Regions from separate parts of the Homo sapiens genome. Here regions 1 and 2 are each linked to region 3. Evidence: fine-mapped expression QTL. A gene starts in region 3. Each other region holds a variant in brackets. All regions are shown on one strand. Distances are from middle to middle. Region 1 overlaps ARHGAP31 (Rho GTPase activating protein 31). Region 2 overlaps ARHGAP31 (Rho GTPase activating protein 31). Region 3 holds the start of TMEM39A (transmembrane protein 39A).

Region 1 (2,763 bases), 52 kb after region 3:
TAGTAGAGATGGGGTTTCACCATGTTGCTAGGCTGGTCTCAAACTCCTGGGCTCAAGTAATTTTCCCACCTAGGCCTCCAGAAGTGCTGGGATTACAGGTGTGAGCCACCACGCCCAGTCTCTTTTTTCTTATTACCAAGGAAATACATATTTCACATGGAAAAAAATATGAATACATATTAAAATAAAGGCAAATACAAAGACATCAAAATCATACATCCTTACTCCCCACAGATAACCACTGTTAACATGATGGGGATTTCTTTGTTGTGGTTTGTGGAACTGCCTACTCCTCCACCTTGCTTGCTGTCCTTGTCTCCCCTCAAGTCCAGCTTCCCTTTGTCCTTCTAGACTCCTCCCTTTCCCTACATAAGGCCCAAAGCTATAGACAGGAAAAGGATGGAAGGAGGCCTGCTCAGGGCCAGGACAACCAATTTCAATTTCTTTCTTTCTTTTCTTTTTTTTTTTTTGAGACAAAAGAGTTTCACTTTTGTCACCCAGGCTGGAGTGCAGTGGCATGATTTCGGCTCATTGCAACCTCCTCCTCCCGGGTTCAAGCGATTCTCCTGCCTCAGCCTCCCAAGTAGCTGGGATTACAGGCATGTGCCACCACACCCGGCTAATTTTGTATTTTTAGTAGAGATGGGGTTTCACCATGTTGGCCAGGCTGGTCACAAACTCCTGACCTCAGGTGATCCGCCCGCCTCAACCTCCCAAAGTGCTCAGAAAGGTGTGAGCCACCATGCCTGGCCCAATTTCTTTCATTTCTTGCCTCAAGGCCTAATTCTGTCCCAGGGCGAGGCAGCCGGGGGACGAATCTCCATCCTGGGATGGCACAGGCCTTTGTGAAAGTAATTTTTGCTGCTGACCTCTCGTCCCTTCTCACCTAGCTCTAATCACTTGTTGTTTCATATTACAGTTACTTTAATGCTTGTCTTATTATTCCCAATGGACTGTGAGCTTCTTGAGGTCAGGATTGTGTTTATTCATCTTTGATTCAACAAGGCCAAAAGGTGCCTGGTATACTGTGAATGGGGGCTCAATAAAGGGTCTGCTGAACTGTAATGGATTCAGTGTTTTCTTTTGGATTATTTCTTTCACATATCTCTGTGGGATTACTTTATCAAAATTAATCTGCTTCTACCACACTGCATTTATTTGTGAACATTTCTATTTTGCCTACTAGACTGTGCCCTCCTTCGGAGCGGGGACAGCTTCATCTCTTTACTCTCCTCAGCACCTACATTAACTGGGATATTACTAAGAAATCAATACTGAGAAACCATAAATTTAGATGAACAAATGAACATCTAAACTCCCTTCCACTTCACTCTGCCCTCTCAGTAAG[T/C]GGACCCACAGTGCATCTCTTTGCTCAAACCAGAAACCTATGAGGTGCCTTTGACGTTTCCTTCTTTCTCAGCCCTTATCTAATCCTTCAACAAGTCCTGTCCATTCTACCTTCTAAATAGTGATTGTAGCCCTTCATTTCTATCCCCATGGCCCCACACTAGTCTACACCTCCAGCTTTTCTCTCCTGGCTTACCACATACTCCCCTCCTGATGCATTCGTGCCTCCTTTCTTCAAGCCATTCTCCACACAGAATAGAATGACCCATTAAAGACAAAATTCTGAACACCTCATATGCTTTCCCATTGCCCTTAGGTTAAACCCCAAATCCCTTCCAAGAAGTCCTGGCTCCTGCATCCCCCTGAGTCTCACTTTCTCCAGCCCAGCTATCCCAGCCTTGCTCCCATTCCTTGAATGGGAATGCTCTTTTCTACCTTGGATTCATGGCACATCTTATTCTTTCTGCCTGGAGGTCTCTCCTTTCCTAGTCCACCCACTGCCCCTTTCTTCCATCTAAGTTATCTGCCTGAATATGCACTCTACAGAGAAGCTTTCCCCGACCCTTGTGGCATGCCTCCTCCCTCTGACTAGGTTGGGTCCTCTTGCTATGTGCTCCCATGCACTCCATGCTTCCATAGCACCCCAGGAATTACTTGTTCAATCTTTTCCCAACTAGGCTGTTAGCTCCAAGAAGGCAGGGATGGTTAAAGCCTTGTTCACTACAGTGATGCCAGTGCCTGGCACAAAGTTCATGTTAAATACATGTTTTGAATGAATGAATGAACTGATGCCTTTACTTGTTCCCTTGAATCCACCCGGTTCTCTTTCCAGCACTAACTTTACCTGCTTCTCAAAGCAATGCCATTCATTCCTACAGGGTCCTCCCTGTAATAATTCAATCAATCCCCATATGAATCTCTTCATCTTTCCCCTTCAACAAATGCCAATATATCTTATAGAGACCCTAGCTCAGCCATCCTGAGGCCTCCATGGCACTCCACTCTGCCCTAACTCCCAGCACATGGTTCTTTTGTGCACGTCCTGAAAATCAAGACTCTGGAAGCAAGTTCAAAGGCATCCTCCTTTCTGGTGCCCTCCTCTGGTCACAGAGCTGCCTCTCAAATGCAGGACTCCTCCTTGGGTATCCCTGGAAAACCTCCTCACACTTTCTATTGAAGGACATCCCATAAAAACCTTCTTGGAAAATTCCACCTCTAAAAAGTAGACAAGGTTTAGTCAGCTCCAGCATTGTATTTTAACTTCTCCAGAGCCCACGGAAGGAAAGAATGGATCCTGGAAATATTTATTGTTTTGGAAATAAGTGTAGACAACTGCCCATCCAGGATGTCCAGAAGAAGAAGGCTGGACTCTGTGACTGATCATGATATTTGGGACTGGGGTATGACAAGCAGGTC
Region 2 (2,763 bases), 69 kb after region 3:
TTTTGTTGTTTTGTTTTGTTATTTTTTGACTTTTCATTACTGGTGAACCTCTTTCATGGCTGTACCACTGATTCTGCAACTGAAATTCTCTCTTTGACGTGCTTAAGCAAATCTCTTTTCATAGATTAGGAGTTTCTGGTCAGGTACTCTTCTCCCCAGTTTCTCCCTTAAGAATCCTATTTTCTGATTTGCATCTGTCTTGCCATACTTGTGGCAACCTGTCCTCTTCATTCAGGCTATCTTTCCATTTTGTGTAAGCTGAGTTTTGCCATACGATGATTACAGATGCAGACCCAGAATCCATTTCCCTTCTGCCCTTCGCACATAGCTCTTGTACTTCTTGGGTGTAAGTCCCATTCCTCATGCAAGGGGTTGGCTCAGGATCCCAGGCTGAAGCCAATCAGCACAAGGCACACCATTGACAACAGGGACCGAACCATGTGGCTCAGTGAAGGATACCGAGACAAGGGGAATTTTGATGAGGCCTTCTGGAAAAGAAGGGTCCCTGCTCTTAGGAGCAAGCTACCAGAAATGTTCTTTCTCCCTCTGGACCTAGTGGGATAGTCAGAGGGAAAGCCTAGAACTACTACAGCCACTTTGCCACAGCAAAGGAAGCCAGTCTGGGGATGAAGCTGACCCAAAGGGGGACACAGCTGGGACAGCTGGGGAAAACATGGAGAAATCATGACAGAGCCCCTGTATTAAACCCCCTGAAGCCTTCCCTCTATCAGGGTGTTCAACTGCAGAAGCCAGTAAATTCCCTCACTGCATAAGTTGATTGAATTGATTTGCCATTATTTACAGCCTAAATCGTTGTAACTGCTGTACTGTGACACCCCTCCTTACTCTAACAGGCAAACACGAAGGTTTCTAACATCTGGACTTCCTGATCCTTGGCATGTGATTATCACCGGGTTTGAGGAAAGTCGTTAAAAATATTATCTCACATATTTCCTATAGGAATTAATTTTCCCCCAAATCTCTATTAAAAATTTCAAACATTTAGAAACCTACCACCCTTAAACTTACCACCTTAGTTTTGATAATTATTGACATTTTGCCATATATTTGCATTATCTATTTCTATATTGATATTTATCTACCTACCTATAATTTGCTAGTTATTT[T/G]AAAGTGTCAATATTTTGCTGCTTCATCCTTGAATACTTTAGTTTTAGTATATGTCTCCTAAGAACCATTAGCATACTATGAAAATTTATAATTCCTTAATATCATTTAATATCTTCTATATCCACATTTTCCCTCTTTGTTCCCCAAATTGTCTTTTGTTGTTTTTTCTTATTTTTGTTTTTTAGAGATGTGGTTTTGCTATGTTCCTCAGGCTGGTCTCGAACTCCTGGGCTCAAGTGATCTGCCCACCTCAGCTTCCCAAAGTGTTGGGATTACAGGCACGAACCACTGTGCTCGGTCAGCTCTTTTTTTTGTTTTTTTGGTTTTTTTTCCAGGATCCAGTCAAAGTTTGCTCACTGCATTTGTACATTTCTCTTTTACACCTTGGTTTCATAACTATTGCCTCCATTTTTATCATACTTTCAATCTATAACACTAAAGATCATTATGAAAAATTTCCTTGGTCTTCTCTTTCCTGACATAATATTCAGCTGCATTGGTTAAATTCCCCACTATATATGGTTCCCTCAGTTCCTTCCTGTATCAATTTCTATGCACTACTCAGAAATAAGTCCCATGGGGTAGCATCCTTCTTTAAAAATCACGACCCTGGGGGAGAAGGGACAGGTCTTTTCAGCAGAATTCCAATTAATAGAAAATCATCATTTAGCAAATGCCATAGGAATAATTGTTACATCCAAGAACCATCAGAGGATCCTAAAATTCATGACAAAGAGCACTTTAACCAAGGGATCACAGTTCTCTTCACACGCAATAAGATATTGACATCATGTACCTCCTAATATAACACACTGAGTCTGGCACAGGATCACTTCTGTAGGATTTCTGCAAAAATTCCTAACCTCAGTTTAACCATGAGAAAACACTGGACAAACTCTCCCTGAGGTATATTCTACTAAACAAATGGCCAGTACTCTTCCAAGTTATCACGGTCAAAAAGATGGAGGAATTGTCCTAGATTGGCAGAGGTTAAGGAAACATGACAACCAAATGTAGCGTGAGATCCTGGATTGGATCCTAGACCAGAAAAAGAACAGTAGTGGGACAGCTGGCCAAATGTGAATAAGATCTGCAAATTCATTAGGAGTATTGTATCAATATTAATTTTTGGCTTTGATAACTTATATAAGATGTTAACATTGGGAGAAGCTGCATGAAGGGTATACAGGTTCTCTGTGTACTATTTTTGCAATTTTTTTGGTAAGTCTAAAATGTTTTGAAAAAAGACTCCTCTTCCCCTAGTTAATTTATAAGTTTCTCTTTCAGAGCTAGTGTGTTTGATATGATCAAACCAAAGACTTAATAAGCAGAGTTAGGAAACAAATATTTGTATCATAAAACAATTGCTGTTGATTCTTACCCGAGAGCCTCTGTCCTCTCACAAATACACTCCCATTTCTACTCAGTTTTGATTTGGAGTCTGATCCAGAACGTCCCAGGTTAAATATTGATTTCCACTTCTTTGATTTACTGGAGAGCTTTCGCCTAAAAGAACCAAGGCATAAGGGGTTAGTTTGTTAACTTGTCATTTCAAGGGGACTTTTAAATTGAGACCAAATATTCCAGTTATGTCCTCAGTTATGAATGGCTCTGATATTTCAAGAAATTCCCCTC
Region 3 (2,763 bases):
AGTGGCACAATCTCGGCTCACTGCAAACTTGACCTCCAGGGCTCAAGTGATCCTCCCACCTCAGCCTCCCAAGTAGCTGGGACTACAGGTGTGAGCCACCATGCCCGATTTATTTTTTTACTTTTTTCATAGAGACAAGGTTCCACTATATTGCTCAGGGTGGTCTCAAACTCTTGGGCTCAAGTGATCCTCCTGCCTTGGCCTCCCAGTGTTGGAATTACAGTCATGAGCCACCCTGCCTGGCCAGGCAGGCTATTTTCAACAAGCTACTTAACTTCTCTTAACTTCAGTTTCTTCTGTAAAATAATAACCATAGTAGAAGCTATCAAAATGTGAGATTTAAATGAAATGTGTAAAGCTACTAATCCAGTGCCTGACACAACAAAATTCTTAATAAAGGTTAATCATTCAATCAATACAAACAACTTTCTATTAAGGAGATTAAAATCTCTGGAGTGAAAGATTACACAAATGCTCCTTTTGACACTCTTATCTTCTTCTAATACCAAACTATTGTCAATTCCTGAACTCAAGATGACGTTGCTCACAGATCTTTACCTTTTTATCTGCCACTTCTCCAGGAGGACTGCCATTCTCCCACAAAGCCCCTATGCCTTTGTGGAGTCTTGGCTGAAACCCCAAGCTCTCTGCAAAGCTTTTCTTGGTATTGACATCACCACCATCCCACAGAATTCGTTAGTGTTACATGCTATCTCTGGACCTTGGACACACTTTTAATATTGTAACAAATGGTAATTACTGTATTTTCTTAGTGTCGCCTCTCTTCCACTAGACTCTGAGCTTTTGTGGTATTCGCTTTGTAACCACAGCATCTGTCTAGTTCTTAGCAAACAATAAGCGCAGGGTTGGATGCTGACGCATGACTTCATGACTTGGGCTCCCTCACTTAGCAGTAACGTGACCCTAGGTGACACCTCCTAATCTACACTCATCTGTAAAATGGCGGTGATAACTTGTACATGGTTACTACATGGAGTCCAAGAGACAGCAAGAAGGATCAGTAGCATGGTGCCCGCACCTAGCAGCCGCTAGCTGACTGAGGCCGAAAGAGGAAATGCTTTGGCCAACACTGGCCGGAAGGGGCGGGACCGCGAGTTAAGAGGAGAAGGCGCGCCCCACTGCGCAGGTGCAAATGGTAGGGGTTGTCGTGCCGGCTGATTCCGGGGACGCACTCGCGGCTGGGGCAGACCGCGGTCGCGTAGCTGACGTCATCGCCGTGCGCTGCCACGTCTGCTCAGCTCCGCGGTAATGGAGGCTAGGGATGGGTGCTGAAGTATCAGGCTCTGGCTCTAGCTTTAGCTCTGGCACTGGAACTGCGTCGGAGTCTGGGTCTGAGTCTGGCAGCCCGAAGCCTGGACACCTTTTCTTGATTCTCTAGGCGGGGGCTGCCTGCGTCCAAGCAGCTGGTTTGCAGCGTTCCAACGCTGGGAGGGAGTTCCCTTACCTGGGGTCCAGTCTGTAAAGTTGTCGCCGCTTTCTAGGGACCCCGCCCCACCGGCTGGGACTCTTCCATGCGTGAGTATTACTGAGCTGCCCCAAGGTCCGGCTGTCCTGGACCTGCCTCGGCCCTCTTGGGTGTGCGGCGGAGACTGCTTTGTCTACCTTTCTGCCGACTTCTCTTAGGGACCAGTCTGTTGAAGTTTGTGGTCTCCTGCAGTCCACCACACCGCATACTCTCACCTCTTCCGTCCCAGTTTTTTCCCTGCACTTTTCTTTCCCTTTGCTTGTTAATGGAGCAAGGACCAGCAGCCCCTGCATCCAGCGGTTTGAATGCTTTGTTTGACTTGGGGTTAGTTTACAGCCGAAGGCTGTTAGGAATAGGGAGCATTTGAAAACACGGGTTTTTTCCAGTGTCATCCTTGGGTTTTAGTTGTATTGTTTAGGAAACATTGGTATCCATGTTGACAGAATCATGATTTTTGCCGTAGAATGATGAAAAGAGCTTTTTTTTTTTTTTCCAGTGAGGATCTTTATCTTTTACTTGCTTCTTAATCTTGCAGTTTCAGTAATTTCTGTATGATTTTACACCAGCTTTTCTGGAGCGGGCATCCCCTTGAAGAGTTTCTTTCAATATTTTAACCCTAACATATAGAGATACCACTCGAACAGTTTTACTTTTAAACTGTTAAAAGAACTACTGGTACCCTTTCATTCCACTTCCTCAGTCCTGACAACCTCTGCAGAACAGGGGACACTCCCCCCCCCCGCCCCCCCCCCTTGAAGAAACACACTCAGAAGAACACACTCAGAAGTTAACTTATCCGGATAAGGTCAGATAATATGTGACCATCTGAGCTCACAAGCCATATCCCTTGATAACAAAACCTAATGTTTTATAAAGTGCCAATTCTTCTATATTTCAAGTAGTTTAAGTGTGAAACATTGAGCTGGAAATGTATAAGGTGTGATGTTTCTTGTAAACTTCTATTTGATTATAATATCTTACAGATGATACAAATCAGTTGACAAAAGACACAAATCATCACTTGCCTAAAGCTGAACAGAGCTTAGATCAGAACTTAGGCTTTTGACCCATTAGAGTCTGAGTAGTCCTTTAATTCGAATAACGTAAGTAGTAGACACTGGGAACATTCGTTTGAAAATCTTATTTTGTAAGGCCTGCTTACTCAGTGTTTGTCGTTGTTTTGTTGCCTACTTTAAAAATAGTCTACTGATGTTTAAATGTTTTTGTTGTCGTTCAGAGTTGAAACTGGTTGACAACCATTAACCTGGGTTGCAACT

The links. PIP is the estimated chance that this variant, and not a neighbour inherited with it, causes the effect.
Region 1: its variant is fine-mapped to the expression of TMEM39A in sun-exposed skin (GTEx, PIP 0.90).
Region 2: its variant is fine-mapped to the expression of TMEM39A in tibial nerve (GTEx, PIP 0.95).

Annotation. Positions count from the first base shown.
Region 1 is chr3:119,410,099-119,412,861 of GRCh38, reverse strand. All of the region lies in intron 11 of ARHGAP31 (Rho GTPase activating protein 31), which reads right to left. Among named protein-coding and RNA genes, the nearest start is that of TMEM39A, 52 kb to the left of the region's middle. The variant T/C (reference allele first, on the strand shown) is at 1,349.
Region 2 is chr3:119,393,338-119,396,100 of GRCh38, reverse strand. ARHGAP31 (Rho GTPase activating protein 31) reads right to left here. Exons shown (of 12, transcript NM_020754.4): 8 at 2,510-2,634. Among named protein-coding and RNA genes, the nearest start is that of TMEM39A, 69 kb to the left of the region's middle. The variant T/G (reference allele first, on the strand shown) is at 1,128.
Region 3 is chr3:119,462,109-119,464,871 of GRCh38, reverse strand. TMEM39A (transmembrane protein 39A) reads left to right here and starts at 1,257. Exons shown (of 9, transcript NM_018266.3): 1 at 1,257-1,536; 2 at 2,724-2,763. RefSeq lists enhancers at 1,007-1,066, 1,097-1,586.